Homo sapiens: one gene and its partner. The protein of the gene in region 2 purifies or fractionates together with the protein of the main gene of each other region. This does not show direct contact. Each region holds a gene or a part of one and is shown on either strand. Other genes may lie near its edges.

Region 1 (3,500 bases), on a different chromosome or scaffold from region 2:
GTTAAAAGCACTTATTCCTTGGAAGAACTATTTTCAAACCTAGCTTTTTCTTCTGCTGTTTACCTCCATATTTCTAAATAAAATGATTGTTAAAAATTGCAATACATCTATAATCCTTACTAGTGAAGATCAGGAGATTAGGTTTTTACATTCTGATTCTCCAACCCCGTCCTGCTTCCATTCGTGCGTGCGCGCACACACACACACACACACACACACACACACAAAACCACCACCACCACCATTCACCCCATCCCTTTAACTTAGTTTTGATTAAGCATTGATTGTTTTAGTTGGTAGGTACTGGTATAACTGTTTATTGCCAGTATCTATTCTAACTGATCAGTATTTGTCTTGTACTGGTTAAGTATTCTGAAAATCACAATTTTTGGTTAAGTGCATATTCAGGTTATATCCTGATTGCATCACAGTTTTTAGTTACATTCGTACTCAGGTGTTTGTTTACATCATTATTATTATTATTTAAATATTGTTCACTGCAGACCCACAAAATGTACTAAGACATTTTTTGTACAACTTTTTGTTTTTACTAAGACTCTGTAATTACCTTATATTTTCAGTTGCTTATCTTTCTAGGTACCTATTTCTATGTTATTCTCACAATCTCCAACAGGAGATTCTCAATACTGTTGAAGCATTTTTCTCCCTTGGGAGTCCTATGTCTTCCTGCTACAGACTACTGCACAAGCTGCTGCTGCTGCTGTACTGGGGGTTGCCTTTTTCTTCTGTGTCAGATTCCATTTTTGGAATCTTATGTCTTCTTTCTTGTTTTACTATATTTTTGATGATTCATATTATCAAGTATCTTCCTGAGAATGAGTACATAAGAATTATTTTGAGAACTTGCACGAAAATGTTTAGTTAATCTTCAAGTCAATCTGATTGATAATTTGCCTGGGTATAAAACTCTGATTAAAGAAAGAATATCTCCTTTTAACTGCCCAGCCTCCATATCTGAGCCTCTGATTTTTAAAAACTTTCCTGTTTTTCCATCTTTGTCTTTTTGTTTAATTTACTGAGAGATTCCCTCAAATTGTCTTTAAATCCTTTTAAATATAACATTAAAAAAAAACTCCTAAGAGCTATTTAAAAGATTCTCTCACCCTACCCACCATGCATAGGAATAGCATTGCAAGCATTCATAATTACATTTTGAGGCCTAGATTCTTCATCTGATTCTTGCTTCACTATAACAACAGGGAAATCATAATTTTCCGGTGGTCCACTGTTTTCTTGTTTTATTCGAATTGGCTCCAGCATGACCACTGGGACTTTGTGTGTAGAGTCAGCTCCTGCTGGTTTGCTGGAAGAGCCAGAGCTGTAAGTATGAGAGAGAAGAAAAAGCAATCTAAGAATGTTAAGCTAAATACCTCATAAAAAGTATAACAACAACTTTCTAAAATACTGTATCTTCACAACAATAAGTATGTTAACATCAGCAATTAATGATGCATAACAAATGAAACTGGTGTATGCAAGTTTCATTTATGATAAAAATGTTTTACATATTAACCTATCTAAATAGTTATATATCTAGAAAGATGTTTCAATAAACCTAAACTTTTAAAAACCTGAGGCTTTACAATTAGGCAACCAGATTTAGTATCTTAGAACTGGCATCTGATTTTAGGCTTTCTCATTTCCTTCTCTAGTCAGTAGCAAAGTGAATACTTTGGTGAAGACAATGAAATAATCATGTATTTACACAATACTATTTAAAGAAGGTAGTGGGTCAAAAAGCTTTTACAGAGATTCACTATGTTCTCATGGGATTAAAGGCAAACTTTTCTCCCTCAGACAATTCTTCCATATGATAAAGTAAGAACTGGGTTCACTAGCTAGGAGGAATTTTCAGGCATAATGCAGGGAAGAGGAGAGCAGTTGCTTAAAATATAGAATTTCAATAACTGTATATTTATTTTAAAGTAGAATCAACATTTAGTCATTAGAGATCAAATTAGCATAAAATTTTATCTTTTCTCTAAATTTGTGTTTCTATATAGTGTACTGTGTTATGCCTATTCATTTTTATGTTTTCTTTGCTATTATATGAATATCCAACATTTCTTATTTTCAACATATTGACAAATATTCTTCTATCTTCAAAGGTAAATTTGTACTTTTGTTAATCCCTTAACTAATTCATTAAAATATATAGTAGTTATTAAAATTTTAATTAAAAATAAAGGAAATTGTTCAAAATATATTGAGTATCAAAACATGTTGAACACTGGCAAAAGAAATCTAATTAGAGATTTTTATATACTAGAAAATATGGTTTAGTCAGTTTACCTTCCTCGGCTTCCAACGCTGGAGGCACTAGGTGAACGTATTGGGGGGTGTACACTAGTCATAGTAACAGGTCCTGAGGAGGGGGAAACCATACATTCATAAAACGAATGAATAATTATGCATTGAAGTCCTGTTGAATGTGTTCACTTAGCACTACATTGAAACTGGGAACCATGATGAAATTCTATGAAACAGTAAGTAGTTGCTGAATTTTCAGCAGTCTGTTACAGCCTGTTACACCGGCAGGGTTTTTCAGCCTCTGCACTATTGACTTTTGGGCCAGATAATTCCTTGTTGTGGAGGAATGTCTCTGCATTTCAGGATGTTTAGCAACATCCCTGGCCTCCACCAATTATTAGATACCAGTGGCATCTCTCTATACTTCCCAGCTTGGGGTGTGACAATCAAAAACATCTCCAAACATTGCCAAGTCTTTCTGTGTTAGAGTAACAGGGGTAAGATCTCAGTGAGACCCTAGTGCCAGTGGAAGCTACAGAAGACAACGAAAGGTGGTACGGGCTGATAGAAAAGGAGTTCAAAAAAGAAAACCAAGTAAACAAAATTAAACCAACTAATGGAAGACACAGAAAGATCAATGGGTTCAGACTTAAGGCAATAAACAAAAGAGGGATTCTGGACTACTGCCCTAAAAAGATTAAGAAGCTATGCTCTGGTGGTAGTGTAGACTGGAACAAGGAAGATCTAATTAAAAGCAGCCAAGAAAGAAGGAAAACTGTTGCAAATAATTGATTTGAACTGATGAAGGCCCAAACTAAACAGTAACAAGTAGGAATACAATGAAAGTGGGAAGTAGAAAAAAAATTCCGAATTGACAGAAGTTCTAAAAGGTTTGATGAACAACAGGATGTGGCTGATAAAATGAAGATTATCATTTCATTGGTTTGTAAACTCTGGAGAATTTAATTTAAAAATAAAAGGCCTGGACAACAAAGACCCGTCTCTAACCAAAAAAAAAAAAAAAAAAATTAGCCAGGCCTGGTGGCACCTACCTGTAGTCCCCACTACTGGGAAGGCTAAAGCAGGAGGATCACTAGAGCCCAAGCGTATGAGGCTGCAGTGAACCATGATTGCTACACCCTGGGCAACAGAGTGAGACCCTGCCTCAAAATCAATCAAAACAATGGCTATTTATAATCTCCTGATAATATAAGAATACATGCTTCATT
Region 2 (3,885 bases):
GGCAGATCATGAGGTCAGGAGATCGAGACCATCCTGGCTAACACGGAGAAACCCCATTTCTACTAAAAATACAAAAAAATTAGCTGGGCATGGTGGTGGGCACCTGTAGTCCCAGCTACTCGGGAGGCTGAGGCAGGAGAATGGCGTGAACCCGGGAGGCGGAGCTTGCAGTGAGCTGAGATCACGCCACTGTACTCCAGCCTGGGCGACAGAGCGAGACTCTGTCTCAAAAAAAAAAAAAAAATATCACATGAGACCCATAAGGTCCCTGAAAAAGGTAGTCCATCTTTTCAAGCTGACAGAAGACCCCTCTGGACCAGTACTGAGACAGATCCATGGTCTCGCTCATCCGAAAGAAATGAGAAAGGAATGACAGCTGAGACTACTCACCAATTCCTCTGGCCAACGAAAGACAACCAAGGTTTACTTCCAGAACATCATGGGGTGAATGAATGATGCACAGTGAACACCTGCCTCGTGGCCGACATAAAATGGCTTTTGCCAGATAACCGACATCATGTCTGGCAAGGGAACCCGGCAGGGTGAAAAATGCCACACAGCTCCAACATAATTGAGTTTATGCAGATGCTGAAGGTATGTCAATTTAGGCAGATGGCTCCGTCATAAGGCATCTCCTCCAGTGTTATGTTTTACAAGAAATAATATTTCCTGTACGTGTACAGTGTTTTCCTTATGAGAACAATCTGTTATCCAATGACAGAAGGCAGAAGGCTTTCTCACATTCATCGCACTCAAGAGGCCCTTCTGCAGTGGGAGCTCTTCTGTATGTAATAAAACAAGACTTCTGCATAAAGAATATCCCACGTTTGTCACACTCATAAGGTCCTGATCCAGTAAGAACCCTCTGATCAAGAAGATGCACAGAGGTTTAGCTAAAGAATTTCCCAAATTTCTTTTCACTTGTAAGGACTTCTTTCTGTGTGAACTCTCTGATGTCGAAGGAGAGAAGAGCTTCGATGAAATGATTTTCCACATTCACTGCACTCATAAGGCCTTTCTCCAGTGTGTACTCTCCTGTGTTCAGTAAGACTGAAGGTTTCAGCAAAGGATTTCCCACATTCGCTGCACTCGTAAGGCTTTCCTCGAGTATGAAGTCTCTGATGTTTAAAATGCGCAGACCTTCGAGTAAATGTTTTTCCACATTCCCTGCATTCATAAGGCCTTTCTCCAGTGTGAACTCTCCTGTGTTCAAGGAGACTGGAGAAGAATTTCCCACATTCTCTGCACTCATAAGGTCTTTCTGCAGTGTGAGTTTTCTGATGTCGAAGGAGGGAAGAGCTCTGATGAAATGACTTTCCACATTCTCCACATTCATAAGGCCTTTCTCCAGTATGAACTCTCCGATGTCGAAGGAGGGAACAGCTTTGAGGAAATGACTTCCCACATTCACTACACTCAAACGGTTTTTCTCCAGTGTGAACTCTCTGATGAACACGAAACCCAGAGCTGTCTTGAAATGATTTCCCACATTCATTACATTCATATGGCCTTTCTCCAGTGTGAACTCTCTGGTGTTCAATGAGGTGGGACTTGCCCCTAAATAATTTCCTACACTCTCTACACTCATAAGGCCTTTCTCCAGTGTGGCTTCGCTGATGCTGAATGAGGTTGCCCTTTCGACTAAAAGATTTCCCACATTCTCCACACTCGTAAGGTCTTTCTCCAGTGTGACCTCGCTGATGGTTCCTAAGGTGTCCCTTTCGACTAAAAGATTTCCCACATTCTCCACACTCATAAGGTCGTTCTCTAGTGTGAACTCGATGATGTTCAGTTAGGGTGCCCTTTTGACTAAAACATTTTCCACATTCTTCACACTCATAAGGTCTTTCACTAGTGTGACCTCGTTGATGTTGAATGAGATTGCCCTTCTGAGTAAAACATTTCCCACATTCTTCACACTCATAAGGTCTTTCTCCAGTGTGAACTCGTTGATGTTTAATGAGAGTACCATTTTGACTAAAAGATTTCCCACATTCTCCACACTCATAAGGTCTTTCTCCAGTATGAACTCGCTGATGCTGAACAAGGCTGCCCTTATGACTAAAAGATTTCCCACATTCTCCACATTCATAAGGTCTTTTCCCAGTGTGAACTCGCTGATGCTGAACAAGGCTGCCCTTATGACTAAAAGATTTCCCACATTCTCCACATTCATAAGGTCTTTTCCCAGTGTGAACTCTCTGATGATTACTGACGCTATCATATTTGCTAAAGGATTTCCCACATTCCCAGCAATAACATTCCTCTCTAGAGGGAAGTCTCTGCTGTTGAACAAATACGTGTTTGGTGCTAGAATGTTTCATGCATTCTCCACAGCTGTAATGAGTATCTCCCCACTGAAAGGGAGACTCACACTCAGGTTTGCTGTTTGACTTCTCCCCAGTGTGAGTGGCCTCCTGCAGCAGTAATCCTGAGCTGGGCAAAAAGTCCTTTCCACTCTGAATGAAGATAGATGACTCCTCTGACACATGGAACTTACACCTCTTCACAAACAATGCTTCCTCAACACTGCTTCTATAGGGTTTCTCTCCAAGGTACTGATTCTGGTGCGGACGGTTTGAACTATCATACAATTTATTCCCCCATGCCTCACACCTGTGCAGTTTCTGCTTGTGATGTGTCCCCTGATGATCTGCCAAGTGCAAAATGTCTCCCAAGATCGCGCCACACATTTCACAAGAGTGGGCCTTCTTGGGAGACACACCTGCCCCAGGAGTGCTGACCTGAGACACTCTTTGTATAGAAATGCTCTTCTTAGAAGGTGCCTCCTCATCTTCTGATCCACACCAACAACCTGAAAGCAAGAAAATGCTGATGAATTCAAGTTAACTCTGGTGGGAAGGCACAGCCCACCCACAAGCGTGTCTGACAAACCAAGGAATTACTCCATGGAAATATTTGCAGGAACAGAAAGTTGGCTTCACGTGGAAGATGAGGCTATCATTACTGGGCTATAAAGGTCACAGAATGTCGGCCTCATGATATGAAGGGCATTAGCATACATGCAACACAGAGAATTGAGCCAAGGTCTACAATTTTTTTTTTCTTCTTGAGAGACAGGATCTCACTCTGTCATCCAGCACAGAGTGCAGTGGCATAATCTCTGTCTCCTGGGCTCAGGTGATCCTCCCACCTCAGCCTCCACAGTAGCTGGGACCACAGGCACAGGCCAATACGCCCAGCTACTTTTTGTAGAGGTGGGGTTTCGCCTTGTTGCCCAGGCTGGTCTCAAACTCCCAGGTTCAAGAAATCCACCCACATCGGCCTCCCAAAGTGCTGGGATTACAGGTGTAAGCCAATGCACCTGCTGTATAACTCTTTCCTTTGCAAACCACTTGTCTGCGGGAAATTATCTGATGACATGTTAATGCTATATAGAAGGCTATGTCCAGGCCTAAGAAAATGATTTACAAGACAACAGCTCTTGGTCAGAACAGTTTAACAATTTGCACACACTTGGCCGGGTGCGGTGGCTCACACCTGTAATCCCAGCACTTTGGGAGGCCAAGGTGGGTGGATCACGAGGTCAGGAGATCGAGACCATCCTGGCTAACACAGTGAAACCCCGTCTCTACTAAAAATACAAAAAAATTAGCCGGGCGTGGTGGCGGGCGCCTGTAGTCTCAGCTACTCGGGAGGCTGAGGCAGGAGAATGGCGTGAACCCAGGAGGTGGAGCTTGCAGTGAGCTGAGATCACGCCACTGTACTCCAGCCTGGGCGACAAAGAGAGACTCCATCTCAAAAACAAAAACAAAAACCAAAAACAAAACACAATTTGTACACACTTGCTAATACACAATGTGTATGCCAGTATCGGACAGCACTCTAGAAGTAAACATGAGAAAATAAATGGGTGAGATGTGG

What was found.
Region 1: the proteins of ZNF418 (region 2) and TRIM24 purify together in Homo sapiens (affinity purification with mass spectrometry; one large-scale study listed by BioGRID and IntAct). This does not show direct contact.

The regions. Positions count from the first base shown.
Region 1 is NC_000007.14:138,575,259-138,578,758, reverse strand, and holds part of TRIM24 (transcription intermediary factor 1-alpha), read right to left. Parts: intron 2,387-3,500; coding exon 2,314-2,386; intron 1,340-2,313; coding exon 1,171-1,339; intron 1-1,170. UniProt on the Homo sapiens protein: Transcriptional coactivator that interacts with numerous nuclear receptors and coactivators and modulates the transcription of target genes.
Region 2 is NC_000019.10:57,925,233-57,929,117, forward strand, and holds part of ZNF418 (zinc finger protein 418), read right to left. Parts: intron 2,816-3,885; coding exon 918-2,815; 3' UTR 391-917; intron 1-390. UniProt on the Homo sapiens protein: Transcriptional repressor. May play a role as regulator of the ubiquitin-proteasome system and autophagy-lysosomal pathway.